2 separate regions of the Homo sapiens genome follow, and region 2 is linked to region 1. A link means that fine-mapping ties the variant in region 1 to the expression of a gene that starts in the linked region. Tissue or cell type: unexposed skin. Region 1 holds a variant in brackets; the other region holds the start of a gene. All regions are shown on one strand. Distances are between the middles of the regions.

Region 1 (8,103 bases):
TGGGCTGCCCACCTCCTCCCACAGCTGCAGCCCATTCTTGTGATAGCTTCCCTTTTCCCCCACAAATGGGAATGGCGGCTGCCCCGGCTATGCCTATCTGAAGTGGATCCAGCTGGTGAACAGCCGGGACAGCTCAATACTAGTGGAGTGCAGCTCTCTGCCCAGCCCAGCAGGGGACTGTGCCTCAGTGTAAGCTAATCTAATCTGCAAGATGACAGACCTCAAAAACGGCCCATACAATGAAATGCCCATGGCTTGCAAAACTTTAATTCATGCAGAACCTTTCCTCACAAACAAAATCTTACACAGAACCCCATCTTGGCTTCAGCAGAATCAGGAAAAATACAAAATTGGCAGGGGAAGGAAATAAACAGAACAAGTGGTATCTGAATTTATTTGATATATTCTGGTTGATGGCATTAATTATGATATTTAAAGTAACCATGAGGACAACTCATTAGTAATATCAGTATGTTAAAATATGATGCATAACATTTTTACTATATGTACAGTCATGCACTGAATAACATTTCAATCAATGAGGAAACACATGTGCAACAGTGATCCTGTAAGATTATAATGGAGCATATATAGAGATCTAATATATGGCACTTAATGTTGGCATGGCAGATCAAGTAGGGGAAATGACTGATATTCAGTAACAGTGCTGGGACATTTCATTTTCCATAATAAAATATATAAATGAAAATATATATCCCATCTAGGTTTGTTGAAGTACACCCTATGATGTCCACACAAGAATGAAATTGCCGAATGATGCACTTCTTAAAACATGTCCCCATCATTAAGTGACCCATGACTGTATACACACACAAATATGGTGACATTTTAATCAAATGATTGCAGTATTCCTGAAACACAGAACATTTTGCAAACAATTTAACTACATTCATAACATTAGGTATCCTTTGAATTGCGGTGTTCTATGACAGCGCAACTACAACCAACCCCCATACATCTCCTGCAAAGAAGGCTAGAGGCAAGTCAGGGTACACCAGCATCTTTAAGGACTGCTTCTCAATCCTGGACCTACACTGGAATCACCTGGGGAGCTTTAAAGAACTAACAGTGCCTGGACCCCACCTGACATAACTGGTCTTAGGATTAATTAGGATTTTTTTTTGAAGCTCCACAGATGATTCAAATCAGGTGTAGCAAAGCACTGTTACTTTAAAGTGTCTCTACCTACATGGTGCCAGCCAAGTGCTCAAATGAAATATCTTAAGGCTCTCACTAGCTTTAAGTTTCTCTCTTTGGTAGAGACCCAATCACTGGTTCAAGAAAGCTTCATTCTCCTCCAGTCTTCCCCAGTGCAAAAGAAAACATCTGAGACCCATCAGATACTAGCATTTGTGAGGCAATAACGAGTTTAACCAGAATGCATCCTATTTACAGACCTTACAAAGGCACTCGGCCAGCGGATCATGCACGTCCTCCCCACCCAATGGTAAACAGTGTTAAGTGGCCTGAATGAGCCAGGACAGCAGGGTCAAATCAACTTGTCTAGGCTGGAAGCAGGTTATAAACAATCCAGACAAATAACTACTGGATTGCACTTTAACCACACACATTCAGCTGCACCTGTTTATTAAATACCTCCTTAATTTCCCTCTGCCCCACAAAGGGCTTCTGACCCCTGAAAATAATGCTTCTCAACATAAAAATAATTGTTTTCTTCTTGGCAGTTTAATTCCCCTTCCACACATCCCACCCCACCATTCCCCTATAATAGTAATACCCTGCTGTGCAGACCTCTGCTGCCTCCAAAGAGACACAGGCTCCCAAACCTGACCAGGGCATCCTCTGACCCACAGCCCCTCTCTCTCCCCTCCCAACCTACAATAGAAAGTTCCTCCCAGGCAAGGATCTTTTTTTTTTAAATAACTTTTTTAACTTTAGACATTCTGTACTCTTTGGATTACTCTGCAATAAGCAAATATGACTTCTGTAACATAGAAAGAAAGATCAAAATGTTATATATAACTGCATGAAAAGAACTAGAAAGAAAATACTAGGTGACAGGATGGCAAGTGATTTTTATTTTTTTCTTAATATTTTACTCCTTCCCCCAGTCCTCTGCAATGAGTATGTACCAGTTTTATAACTAGAAAAAAATTTTAGCCAAAAATAAAAATAATGCATGTTTGCTATATAAAATTCACTACTGTAGTATTTATATATATATACATATTTGGTCTTTGTCCCCAGTTCCTGGCACTGAGCTCCTAAACCCCTTGGAACTTCCTAAGCAATGGGAGTACCTTTTGTTATTTATAAGAAGCCCCTTTTGGCCATCCCAGAGTTTATGCTAACGAGGTGACTGAAGGTGAGCACGGAGGCAGTTTCAAGGAAGGAGCTGGCCACGCTTAGAGTTGTGGAGTTTTCCGCCCCAGCCTTAGACCTCCAAGGACAAGAAGGGGACTGCAGATTGATCCAATCAGCATTGGTCAGTGATTTGATCAGTCATACCCATGTAATGAAATCCCATATGAAAACCCTAAATAATGGAGTTAGGAGAGCTTCTGGGTGCTGGAAGCGGCGTGCACCAGGAGAGGGCATGGGCAGTCAGCACTACTCCCCTCTCAGACCTTGCCCTATGCACTAAATAGGACTGACCTACGTGACCAATAGGAAATGCACAAATGGTGGAATGTGACTTCCAGGGCTAGGTCATAAAAAGACAAGCATGATGTTATGAGGACATCAAAGCAGCCATATGGGGAAGACCACATGAGGCCTCCTGCCAACAGCTAGCACTAACTTGCTAGCATGTGACTGGAAGTAGATTCTCCAGCCACAGTCAACTCAGTCAAGCCTTCAGATAATGTCAACCCCAGGCATCTTTTTGTTGTTGTTGAGACAGGGTCTCACTCTGTCACCCAGGCTAGAGTGCAGTGGTGCAATCATAGCTCACTGCAGCCTTGACCTCCGAGGCTCAAGTGATCCTCCCACATCAGCCTCCTGAGTATCTGGGACCACCAGCACACACCACCATGCCTGGCTAAATTTTTTATTTCTTATAGAGACGGGATGATATGGTTGGGGTCTCTGTACCCACCTAAATCTCATGTTCAATTATAATCCCCAATGTTAGAGGTGGGGCCTGGTGGGAGGTGACCGGATCACAGGAATGGATCTTTCATGAATGATTTAGCTTCACCCTTTTGGTGCTGTGCTTGTTAGAGTTCTCACAGTATCTAATTGTTTAAAAGTGTGTGGCACCTCCCCCCTCTCTCTCTTGCTCCTGCTTTGGCCACGTAAGGCGCGCCTGCTTCCCCTTCACCTTCCACCATGATTGAAAGTTTCCTGTGGTTGCCCCAGAAGCCGAGCAGATGCCAGCATTATGCTCCCTGAACAGCCTGTGGAACTGTGAGACAATTAAACCTCTTTTCTTTATAAATTCTCCAGTCTCATGTATTTATAGCAATGTGAGAACTGACTAATACATAGGGTCTCACTGTGTTGCCCAGGCTGGTCTCAAACTCCTGGGCTCAAGTAATCCTCCTGGCTTTGCTTCCCAGAGTGTAGGGATCACAGGCATGAGCCACTGAACCTGCCCCTTTCCCCCCAACAACATCTTGACTGCAACCTCCTGGGAGACTCCGAGTCAGAAGTATCCAGTTAAGATGTTACTGACTTTCTGAACCACAGAAACTGTGAGATAATAAACATCTATTGTTCCTTTAAGCCTTAAGTTTGGGGCTTTTTTTTTTACATCAATATATAACTAATGTAGACACCTGCAGTCCCTAAGATTGAATGCAAAATTGTGTTACATACACATGAGTGTGTTCTTCTGGGAAAAGAGTCCATAAACTTCAAAAGATTCTCAAAGGAATTCAAGACCCAAAAAGATTAAGAAACATTGCATCAGACAATAAATTGTCAATGAGCAAGGTCCTGTCCTTTTAGATTGGGTTTTGAAATCACCCATCCCACAAATACATGATACCACTTAACTAGTTTTTCAAGATATTTCTTGTTCAAAGATGCTCCCACTTTTTCTTTGTGCTCAAGTCCTAGATAAACCTGGCTAGGGGCAGGAGGTATGACTCAGGAGTTAGTG[A/G]GCAGGGAGGGGTCACTGTGTCTGGGAAAGCCAGCTTCTCATGCAATTTTTGGAATATGCCTTGGCTCAGAAACCTACCTCTCTAGGCACAGGATCCAACTTATATGTTCAAGATGCGTGACTGAGCATGTGAAAGTGTCAGAGGGATCGACCTCACCATTTTACATCTACTTTTCCAGTTATGGCCTCTACAATCATCAAAGCTCATTCAGCACCATGCTCCTCCAAATTCTGCATGCGACTCAGCCACACTAGTATCTTTCTTCATCTATAAGATGAAAGTAATACAACATACCATGTAGCAAACTCACAGGAGACCCTAGAGATCAAATAATACTGTGAAAGCCACCAAATGAATATTTTAAAATTTTATCTCATTTCTGCCAAGGTGAGATATCAATATATAAACAGGATAAATCTTTGTAAGTACAAGAACATTAAAAAGAACATTAAGTTTGGGTAAAAAATGCAAAACTGCATATGCAGTAAAATTACATTAAAAAAAAAAAATCCTACACCTACAAAAACAACCAAACAAAACATTGATGATACTGGGCTGAATCGCTGAATGGTGAGAATTTGAGTGATTTTCTCCTCTCCTATTTTTCTCAATACCTTTTCTCTATTATCTCCTTTTTTTAAATAAGCAAGTATATATTGTTCTAAACTGAAGACAAATGATCATAATGAGTAGCACTTTCCCAGGCACTGTCCTAGTTTCTCTGCATACATCATCTCATTTAATCCTCACAACAGTGAATGGGGTCGATTTCATTACAGCCACATTTACCAGACAAGGAAATGGTTTTCAAGGTTAAGTAAACTTCTCATGACACAGAATGTGACTAAGAGTTTTCTTATTCCATGGCTCACACTAAATGTGCTCTGTGAATATCAGTGAGAAGTAATAAAGCACTGACTGGATCTTCTTGCCCACCTGGTCCTAAAGGAAATGATGGGGAATCTATGCAGTCCCAAGTTAAAAATGGGAACTGAACTGAGCTGCCACAGCATGCTGAATTGGTGGAGTCCAGGCCAACTAAGTGCTTCATGGAACTTAAAGGCTCCAGAGAGAAAGCAATCGGGAAGGCCACTTCCACAGGCACATCGGTGACAACTTCTGGGGATTCTTACCTGTCAGCCTTCGGCCAAGGAAGGACAGGAAGTGGCATGGGCTAAAAGATCCTTTGTTTGACCTCTTTCCAGATCAGGTGACAGGAAAACACAACACTTGAACCTTTCCAATAAGGACAGCCAGCACTTACTGAGCCCCAGCCAGGTAACTGACACTGTTCCAAGTACTCTGCTTGTATAACCAGCTTTAACCTTGCAACAGCCCTCTGAGGTCAATACTCCTAGTGACCTCACTTTACGGATGCAGAATCTGAGGCAAGGAGTTAGGGAGTAAATGAAGCTGGCTAAACACACTTGCACTGGCCAGGCACGGTGGCTCATGCCTGTAATCCCAGCACTTTGGGAGGCCAAGGCAGATGGATCACTTGAGGTTAGGGGTTCGAGACCAGCCTGGCCAACATGGTGAATCCCCAGCTCTACTAAAAATACAAAAATTAGCCGGGTGTGATGGCACACGCTATCAGGAGGCTGAGGCAGGAGAATTGCTTGAACCTGGGAGATGGAGGTTGCAGCAAGCCGAGATCGCACCACTGCACTCCAGCCCATTCGGTCAATGTCACTGCCATCAAGGGACAGTCTAACCAAGGTCCAGATGGCACAAGTGGAACCATAAAACCAGGACAGCTCGAGGTTCAGCTTCCCAAGCCCACAGGTGCAAGGACCTTATCTGGATCCATACTTTCATCAAAAATGTCCCTTGAGGCCAGGCACAGTGGCTCATGCCTATAATCCCAGCACTTTGGGAGGGCGAGGCAGGTGGATCACCTGAGGTCAGGAGTTCGAGACCAGCCTGGCCAATATGGTGAAACCCTGTCCCTACTGAAAATACAAAAATTTAGCCCAGCATGGTGATGTGCGCCTGTAATCCCAGCTACTCCGGAGGCTGAGGCAGGAGAATCGCTTGAACCCAGCAGGTGGAGGTTGCAGTGAGCCGAGATCATGTCATTGCACTGTGGGCTGGGCAACAGAGAAAGACTCTATCTAAAAAAAAAACAAAAAAAAGGTCCCTGAGGATCCCTCGAGCCTGGGAGGCCGAGGCTGCCGTGAACAATGATTGTGCCACTGCACTCCAGCCTGGGTGACAGAGCGAGATCTTGTCTCAAAAAAAAAAAAAAAATGGCTCTTGAAACAGCCATCAATTCCCATGTGATAAATGCACTGTCACAATCCAGCAGCAAACCTAAAGTTTGGATCGAATTCCTAAGTCTTCGCCTTCACTGACTTCCCACAGCATGGGCAGTAGCTGTGAGATCTTGGGCTGGTTACTTAACCTCTCTGCACCTCAGTTTCCTCATCTGTAAAGTGGTATAATTGTCACAGCGTTATGGAAGGATTAAATGAGTTGCTACATTTAAAACTTAATTCCTGGCACACAATAAGTGCTCAATAAATGTTTAGCCACTAGTTGCAGTAGTAGCAATAGTAGTGATATTAACTCTAGCTGTGGAACTAATTTCTCCCACACACCGTGGCAGGTTGTATTCTCCAGACACAGCAGTAACAATATCTCCTTCCCACATGCTCTTTTGCAATGTGACCATGCCACACACTCCCATCAAGAGGTGGAGTTTAGAATAATTCCCTTCTCTGTGTATCTGGGCAGGAAGTCACTGTGTGGCTTCCAATCCTAGGTCATGGAAAGTGATGTAGCTTCCATTTCACTCAGGGTGTCCTGAACCACCACATAAGACAGCCAACGGTCCTGAGGCCATGCTGTGAGGGGGCCCAAGGCACATGGAGAGGCCCTGGGCAGGTGCTCCAGTCCAGAGCTGGCTCCAGCCAGGTCCACCTGCCACAATGTGAGTGAATGAGCCAATCAGCACCCAGCTCCACCTGCCACCATGTGAGTGAACAAGCCTCCACTGTGAGCTGCCCCCAGCCTTGGAACTTCCAGCCATGCCTGCTGTGCCTCTAAATTCTCGACCCACAGATTCTGTGAGCATAACAAAATTGTTGTTTTAAGCCACTGAGGTTTGGAAACATTTGTTACATAGAAAGGTAACAAGAACATATGCTATGGCTTCAATCAACATTTTTTTCAGTACCTATTATGATGGATACTAGGACAGAAACTGTGAGGGAGAGATTGATAAGACATAGTTGACAAGTTGTCCTAAGCTGACAATCCTAAAATAAATACACATAACTAATCATTTTAATGGTATACAATAGCAGTGAGGTGCAAAGTGCAAGGTTAAGCCCTTTCAGAAAGTGAAAGCATTCAAAAAGCCTTCAAAAAAGCAGTGACATCTGAATTGGGTCCCAAAGCACAAGGGAAATATATACCACGTGAAAACACTGCAGTGCATTCCAGGATTAGCAAGAAGTTTGCGGAGGTCGTTTTGTCACATGACTGGAGGGCACATCAGTGCCAGGCGGAAAAGGGCACCGAAAGGCACATTAATAAAGTCAAACACCTCCTCTGGGACTGGGGAAGTTGAGAAAGAGCCTAACAGAGGTAAGGAAGAAGACGGATCAGATTTACGCTTTCGAATTATCACTCTGGTGGCAGGTGGAGGACAGAGCAGAGGGCAGGACTGGAAGCAGACAGACCAAATTCACAGTCAAATGCGACAAGATGAGGGCCTGGCCTGGTTTTAAATCCAAGGACAAAAATATCATTCATTCACTCTTTCATTCTTTCTCTTATCTGAATCCCCAGTGGTACCTAAAATAGAGCTGGTCTAAAGATGATGATTAATGAATGTTAAATTATTGATACTACTTCTAAGAAGATGTAACTGCCAGCTACAGAACCATCCAAAAGGACTGCAAACCCAGTAATTCATTTCATCCCAACCTGACTGATCTCTCTGATGTCTGCACTGCTGTGTCACTAGACTGCCTGATTGTCCTAGGTTGAGACATTTAGCTACTGAGCC
Region 2 (8,103 bases), 46 kb after region 1:
GTCTCCGAGATTTACCCTGTATACCCCTCACATACTGTCCAGGGTTTTCTAACTAAAATTGCCATTTCTAGAGGCTGGTACCTGCATCGGTCTCACTTTCAGAGCACTTAGCCTTATCCAACTTTTTTAAACAAAATTTTATTCCAGGCATGTGACCTATATGGGCTTAAAACCTTGGGATTCTTCGCTGTTTTAAATTCATACTACACATTAATTCACATTATGCAGCAAGAATGCTGACACATGAACCAGACCACATCAGAAGACAAGCAGGAAATAAGACCCCAACATGGGTTTTGCTCCCTCCCCAAACGCCTTCTACCTCTCCCAGATTAGTAAAGTAGTAGCCAGGCCTCCTTCCTGCCATACTGAGAGCCATCAGGTGAAGAGAAAGATGAGGTTCCACCAGTGGGGCTCCAAATCAGGCAGAGATCCACATGCATGCCTACAGTTCCAAACCTTCCCACTTCAGCCTGCATCTGGATGTCTGCCACTGTGCCCCTTTAAAGCCACCTTGATGCTCATTTTCCTCCATGGCACCTGTTTACACATGAAGATGAGGGTGGAGGGAAAATGACAGCACCTGCCAGGTGCCAGGGCCCGAGCTCCACTCCACAGAGTGGCCCAGAGAGCGAACAGCAGGGGGACCAGCATGCAGCCTTACATTACTTGAGCAGCCAGAAGAAACAAAAGGCACAAATGTCACATTGCCTTGTTTTCCCATTGATGGTTACTTCTCCTGCCCTGGGCCCCACCCTGCCACTCAGCCCTCTTTCCCGCCTTAGCCACACACCCCACCCCACATCCAAACCTCCCCAAGGGCTTTCCTTGTTTGTGTCCTGTTGAATCCACATGAATCACTAATTGCTGATTTAAACCCAGACACTAAGCGAATGACACATACAGTACAACAAATACAGATCCAATATGAAGAGACTGGCAAATGAAGGGCTCCCTGCCTTCTTGACTCTGCCTGAGCATACAGGTGACATGGAGACACTGCCTGTATCCCAGCCCACAGCTGAACAGAAGACTAACTAAACTACCAGCAGGGTGTCTGCATGCGTTGGGTGGTAGGGCACTGGCGCTAGTGAACTCACCCACTGGTTCTCTACTGAACCATGCATGGAATTACCTGAGATAGCTCAAAGGCTGAGACCTGGGTCCCACTCCCTAAGCGAGTTTGGTTTCACTGATCTGGGGTTGTTGCCTGAAATCAGAATTTTTAAAAGCTTCCCCAGTGATTCCAACATGCACACGAGAGTTTGAGAACCACTGATTGCACAAATCTATTATGAGTTTCAGACATTATTTAAGGCAGTCAAGGCATTTAGGACACCTTATATCCTTTAGTTATCACACCTTCCCTTGTTTTATTGTTTCTGTTTTATTGACATTCAGATGTCAATCATGGTGAAGCTGGGATAGGAACTCAGGTCCTCTAATTCTAAAGTCCATTCTCTTCCCACACACCTGTTACCTACTGCAAGGGTGTAGACAATGCATGGAAGCAATCTCCACTGCCAACAGATCACCCTAAGTTCCCTACGTGCAAGACACCTAGATTTGGAGACGTGAACCCTGTAGGCAACAATCATAATCCCTTCTGAATGCAGAGGACCGAGCCTTACAGAGAGGGCAGGGGGTGTGCTCATGTATGAGGTCTGAGATGGGGAAAGAGAATGGCACCAAATCCTGGCAATGAAGTTTATCCTAGACCTGAGATGTGTTCTAAGACAGCACGCTGAAGACAGTGCTCAATGGCATAAAAAGAATAGGCAATTGTTGAGCAGAGGGGCCTCTTCACTGGGGTGAAGGTCCTGCATCTGCACCTTAAGAGGGGTGTCAAAGGTTCACCTCTCAGGGCCATAGTTTCTTCTTCCCACTCTAGGCATTCTGATTTGTGGGAGCACAAAAGCCAATCCTAAAATCTCCCCTACCAGGCAGCTTCCTTTTCTTCAGGCTCTCCTTCTCCCAGAACTACGATCTAAGCTTCCTTGGTGAGGAGACACAGGACTAGTGCCCTCACATTTTTAGCCTTCAGACCACTCAGGTAGGCAAAGCATCCCTTCAACCCCCATCCCACTTACTCCCATTTCCACCTCAAAAAAGGCACCATCATTATCACCCAAACCAACTTTCGAGACAGAGGGGAATGATGTTCCCACTCCCAATTAGGAATCAATGCAGCCCAACAAAGAAGTGAAAACACCAGAGCATCCATGTTTGACATGCTACAAGACAGCAGCCCACCAGCCATGTGAAGTCCCTAAACCACAGATGTGCAGATGCAGGACCTCACCCCAGGGGCCAAGACAGACACTTTAAGAACAGCAAATGTTCCTTCTTATAGATAACAAATGATATTCCACCGTTGCTCTTGGGTTAGAAACGGGCCTCTTCGTACTCTACTCCAACCTGTGACACACACCGACCGCCTCCTGGTGTCCCCCAAATCCTAGTGTTGATGAAAAAGAACCACGAGAAATTACAGGAACCAAGAGCAGGTTAAACTTTCACATCGATTGCACTGATAAGCAGAGCCACTTACCCAGCACAGCCAGACAGCTCAGCACCGGGAAAAAGCACTTCATGTCGGCAGCCTCCAGGAGACACAACACAAGGCGCTTCCTCTTCTCCCAGCTCCTAATCTCTCATTTCTGGCAATCCACTTATAGCTCCAGAGAACAGTTTTGGAAATAGAACTTAACTCGGAAAATGGGAACAGATTAAAAAGAAGAGATCAGAAGGAGGGAGTTGGGGGGAAGGGGAGGAGTGGAGGCAAGTGTGAAAACTCCCCTATGCTACAGGAAGGGTCCACAACAATTCGGAAGTCGCTCCCGGCTCCTGCCACATCGTGTGCCTTGCAGTTTCCACTGAAATTGCAGACTGTAGTGGATTAATCCTCCAGAAGCACGGAAAAAAGGGTCTGAGAAAATCCTTTCATCCACTGATTATACAGAAATGTCCTTGGCTTCTCAGTGAAGGTGTCTGTGATCTCCCTCATTCGGATTCCCCAGAGAGAACAGGGCAGGTTTCGTCAAAACCTTTGACGGCCAAATCACCCTGCCTGGCATCAACCGTTTGGGTTTCTTCACCAAAAAGTCCGTTTCCATCCATGGTGGTAGGTCACGGAGGCGCCACCTGCCCCACGCCTGCCTAGGGCACACGAAGCAAGTTGGCGTTCGGCAGCCCTGAAGCGGTACCCCAGCGCGAGCAGATTTCTAAAACAAACACAACAGAGATTTTTATCAAAGGCAAAGCTGCAAAACCCACTGGGGCTGAGCGCTGAGCTGGTCCGGACACCTGGGTCCGGTTCCTGGACCAGGACAGTCAACCTCTGCATTCTGACCTTGGGCAAGTCTCTGTCTTTCCCTCCGCCTCAGTTTCCCTGCCCAGAGCAGGGCAACAGTGGGAAGCCCGATTGTTCCTGAAATACTTCCACCAAATGCTTCACTCCTGGGAATTCCCGTCACCTCCTACCGAGCCCGGGCGCCGCAGGTAGCCCCACCCTCCGCCAGGGCAAATCGGGAAGGGGCTCCGCGGTGGGGCCGCGACTCCCGGCCCCCGCCCCAACCGTGGGAGCTCTGCGCGCGACGCGTCCCAGGTGGCCCCGCTATTGTTTTACCTTGCAGGGTGTTTATATCTCGCTGATTGGAAAGAAAAGAAACCGGGGAAGAAGGGAGTCCGGAGCTCCGCTTTCAGCTGCCGGAGCGCGCTCGCAGCGCGCCCGCCCAGCCAGGGGAGGGGTCTCGGGCCCGACCCGGAGCTCAGCCGGCGCGGGCCCGCTCCCCACTCCCCGCTCCCCGCTCCCCGCTCCACGCCTCCCCGCCTCCCTCCCCGGGGCCCCCTCCGGGCGCCGCCCGCGCCCCCGCCGAGCCTGACCTCGCCCCTGGCCCTCTCCCTCCGCGCGCGTCGGACCGTCCTTCAGTCCATCCAGGCGCACGCCTCAGGGGACGCGCCGCTTCCTCTTCTCCCGCAACGGCACCAGCAGCCGCGCTGCGGCCCCTCCCGAGTCCCCGCCCCTCCAGCTCCAGCCCGGCCCGCCGCACTCGGCGAGGCGAGCGCGGGGCCAGGGCGGCGGCCTCGAAGAGAGGCCCGGCCCCGCCCCCGGCCCCGCCCCTGGAGACGCGAGTCCCGGCCCCGGGCCTGGCGGGGGCATGAGGGTGGCCCGGGGCACCGGAGGACCTGGGCAGGGCTGGCGTGTGGGCCGAGCAGCCCGGCAAGTTAATCAGGGCTTCACACCCAGACTCCGGGGCCGCCGGCGAGATGTACAGGCCCTTCCCAAAGCCCAGCTGGCCACCCATAACCTGGGAAGCCGGCGGCACAGAAGCTCGTCCTTCCTCCTGGAAACAAAAACAAAGCCCTTTGGAGACTTGAATCTGTTCACGAAGTGGAACCCCATATTGCACTTCACTCTTGGATAGAATTTGGACTCTGGAAACAGCCTGGGTTCTAACGCCGGTTCCTCCACTTCCTCGCTGTGGCCCTTGGCAAGTTACTTAACCTCTCTGTGCCTCAATTTCCCCATCTGCTATGTGGAGGAAATAACCCTTACTTAAGAGGGTTATGGGAGAAATCTGTGACATACTTGTAAAGCATTTAGAATGGTGCCTGATACATCACAAGTGGTCAGTAAATATAAGCTATTATTATTTTATGACCAACCGCCCTGTAAAGCAAGTGCTTTTTCGTTTTCTCACTACTTACCCAACACACACAACTTGCTGGGTAGACACCGTCACGAGGCGACCAAAGCAGAATAGACCGCCCTGCCCTCATGCAACTTGCAGTCTAGTGGGGACACAGACCATAAAATAGACATGACAAGAAAAGTACAGTGTTGAGGAAGCAAATGCAGAGACCCCAACCCTGTGTTATTGGGGGAGGGGCAAGGAGGAGGGAGCTTTGGTCGGGGTAGGTCCCAGGCTTCTCAGAGGAAAGGAAAACTCGGTTGAATGCCAAAGAACAGAAGGCAGCAGCAGAGGAAGAGACAGAGGGGAGGTAAGGAATCGCAGACTGAAGAAACAGCACCTCTGCAGGCCCAGAAAGGAGCCCAGTTAGAGGACCAGGACAGTCTGCTGGGCCCAAACTTGACTGTAGGAGAGAAGTGACAAGAAATGAGCTGAGAAGAAATCGAGTGCCAGAACCTAGAGGGCATTGTATGGTGTGTTAAGGGGTTGGGACCATTGGGAAGCCACTGAAGGTGTTGAGTAAGGGACTATGGTTATCAGATATACGTTTTATTTTTCATTTTATTTTAAGAGACAGGTTCTCACTCTGTGACCCAGGCTGGAATGCAGTGGTGTAATCTTGTCTCACTGCAACCTCCACCTCCCGGGTTCAAGTGATTCTCCTGCCTCAGCCTCCTGAGTCACTGGGACTACAGGCGTGCACCACCACACCCGGATAATTTTTGTACTTTTAGTAGAGACAGTGTTTCACCATGTTGGGCAGCCTGGTGTTGAACTCCTGACCTGGTGATCTGCCCGCCTCAGCCTCCCAAAGTGCAGAGATTACAGGCATGAGCTACTGTGCCCAACCAGGAATCTTTCCTTGTGTGTTAATTATTACCTCTTTCCCAGAGACACCCGTGACTCTGGCAGCTCTCAGTTCCCATTTGCTAGACTCCTTCATTTATTTATTGAGCACCTACTACGTGTTAAGAAAAGTCTCTGCTCTCATGAAGCTTACATTCTGGTGGGAAACACAGACAATGAAACAAGTATATAATATAATGTAACGTGTTCTGAAGAAAAGTGGAGTATAGAAATGTGTGGGCGGGCACAGTGGCTCATGCCTATAATCCCAGCACCTTGGGAGGCCAAGGCAGGGGGATCACTTGATGTCAGGAGTTCGAGACCAGCCTGGCCAACATGGCGAAACCCTGTCTCTACAAAAAATACAAAAATTAGCCAGCCGTGGTGGTGCACACTTGTGGTCCCAGCTACTTGGGAGGCTGAGGCATGAGAATCGCTTGAACCTGGGAGGCAGAGGTTGCAACGAGCTGAGATCACACCACTGCAGTCCAGCCTGGGCAACAGAGCGAGAGTATCTCCAAAACAAACAAACAAACAAATAAAAAACAGAAAGGAAAAGAAATAGTGTGTATGTTTGGGGGTTCCAGTGGGAAGAAGGACTCTTTGCTAGGTGAGGTGGTCAGAAAAGACCCCTCAGAGGAAGTGACATTTGAGCGAGACCTGATTACAGGGAGTGTGTGAGCGCTGGAGATTTCTGGAGTAAGAAGATTCCAAGTGCAGGGAACAGCAAGTGCAAAGCCCCATAACATGTTCAGAAAATTAAAGGTGTGTTAGTGTGTCTGAAATGGCATAAAACAGAAGGAGAAGGAGGAATGTGATCAGAGAGGTCAAAGAGGCCAAATCTAGTAGGACCTTCTAACCTGAGGAGCTTGGCTCACTCTGGCTGCTGGGTAAGAATAGAGCATCAGATGGTAGGGGTGGACAAGGGACACTGGATGGGAGGTTCTTTCCATTGCGCAGGTGAGAGATGATCACAGCTTAAACTAGGGTGGTGCTGATGCAGGTTGTGGAAATGGGTGGAGTCTGAAAGCATTTAGAAAGCAGAGTCAATGAAATTCTCTGAAGAACTGAATATGGAGGGGGAGAGAAAGAGAAGAGTCAAGGAATCTTCCAGAAGGGGCATCTCAGCCTGCTTTGGAACTCTCTGACCCCCACCAAGGTGTACCCCCATCAAGGTGCAAGACTGTACTTTCTGAGGCCTCTGCCTAGGCCTTCATCCTTGAACCCCTATACTCAATTATCCCTTCTCTATTACTCGTTCTTTCAATCTCAACCTGCCCCTCTTCATACTACTTGGCCCCTTGCATCCTTCTGGATGATCTTTCAACCCTTGACTTCCATCACCACCCAGATGTGTTATGGCTGATTCCCAGCATGGCATTCTTTCTAATTTCCACATCTACGATATGCAAAGAACTGTGCAAAGTGTTGGATGGGGAGACAAAAGTATAATTTAAAAGAATGCCTCTGCCCTCCAGACATAGAAACGATTAAATGAGTCCTGAACAGTGATGTGATGGTGGCCCCTTCAGGAGTTCATCAGCAGGCAGAGAAGTGAATTGGAGGCTGGGTACAGTGGCTCACCCCTATAATCCCAGCACTTTGGGTAGCTGAGGTGGGCAGATCACCTGAGATTGGGAGTTCAAGACCAGCCTGACCAACATAGAGAAACCCTGTCTGTACTAAAAATACAAAAAATTAGCCGGCCATGGTGGTGCATGCCTGTAATCCCAGCTACTCAGGAGGCTGAGGCAGGAGAGTCTCTTGAACCCGGGAGGAAGAGGTTGCAGTGAGCCAAGATCGTGCCATTGCACTCCAGCCTGGGCAACAAGCTCCAGCCTGGGCAACAAGAGCGAAACTCTGTCAGAAAGAAAGACAGAGAGAAAGAAAGGAAGGAAGGAAGGGAGGGAGGGAGAGAAGGAAGGAAGGAAGGAAGGAAGGAAGGAAGGAAGGAAGGAAGGAAGGAAGGAAGGAGAAAGAAAGAAAAGAAAGAAAGAGAGAGAGAAAGAAAGAAAGAAAGAGAGAGAGAGAGAGAGAAAGAGAGAGTCCTAAGGGAAGGAGAGATGTCAAAGGAGAGGAGTGCACCGAAGTCCCCAGTCAGCAATGTCTGGTGCCCGGGCTGAACATTCCAGCTTGCTTCAAAACATTCTGCATTTGAATTTTGAAACCTCTACTGCACCGGCCTGGAATCAGTTGTTTATTTTGGACATTTTGGAAGACTCCTTGATCTTGTCCATCAGGGAGTTAAATGCAGAAGCCTGCAGAAGCCGAGCTGAAGCACAGTGCCAGGGAGTACTGGGGCCTGTGCACCCAGAGCACAGCCTGAAAGAGCACGCACAGCTTCAGCAAAGTGTTGCTGCTGGGAAGGAAGGTGTGGTGTTGCCTGATTTTCCTACTTTTTAAGAGAATCAGGAAATCCACATTAAAAAAAAATTATTCTTAATTTTGCTCATTGGAAACTAGTGTTTCAAAAATAAATTAATCCCTCTCTTTCTAGTTCTTCCTAGAGTGAGGAAAAGCTGGGTTGAGAGGGCAAACAAATTAACTAATTAATTAACTAATT

What was found. PIP is the estimated chance that this variant, and not a neighbour inherited with it, causes the effect.
Region 2: IGSF3 starts here. The variant in region 1 is fine-mapped to the expression of IGSF3 in unexposed skin (GTEx, PIP above 0.99). The same link has a PIP of 0.9 or more in esophagus mucosa.

The regions. Positions count from the first base shown.
Region 1 is chr1:116,617,882-116,625,984 of GRCh38, forward strand. All of the region lies in intron 2 of IGSF3 (immunoglobulin superfamily member 3), which reads right to left. Among named protein-coding and RNA genes, the nearest start is that of IGSF3, 46 kb to the right of the region's middle. RefSeq lists an enhancer at 1,222-1,729. The variant A/G (reference allele first, on the strand shown) is at 4,088.
Region 2 is chr1:116,663,733-116,671,835 of GRCh38, forward strand. It overlaps IGSF3 (immunoglobulin superfamily member 3), which reads right to left and starts at 4,001. Exons shown (of 11, transcript NM_001007237.3): 1 at 3,886-4,001; 2 at 2,552-3,224. The coding sequence starts at 2,594. MIR320B1 (microRNA 320b-1) reads left to right here and starts at 8,014; the gene lies at 8,014-8,085. RefSeq lists a silencer at 3,846-4,235.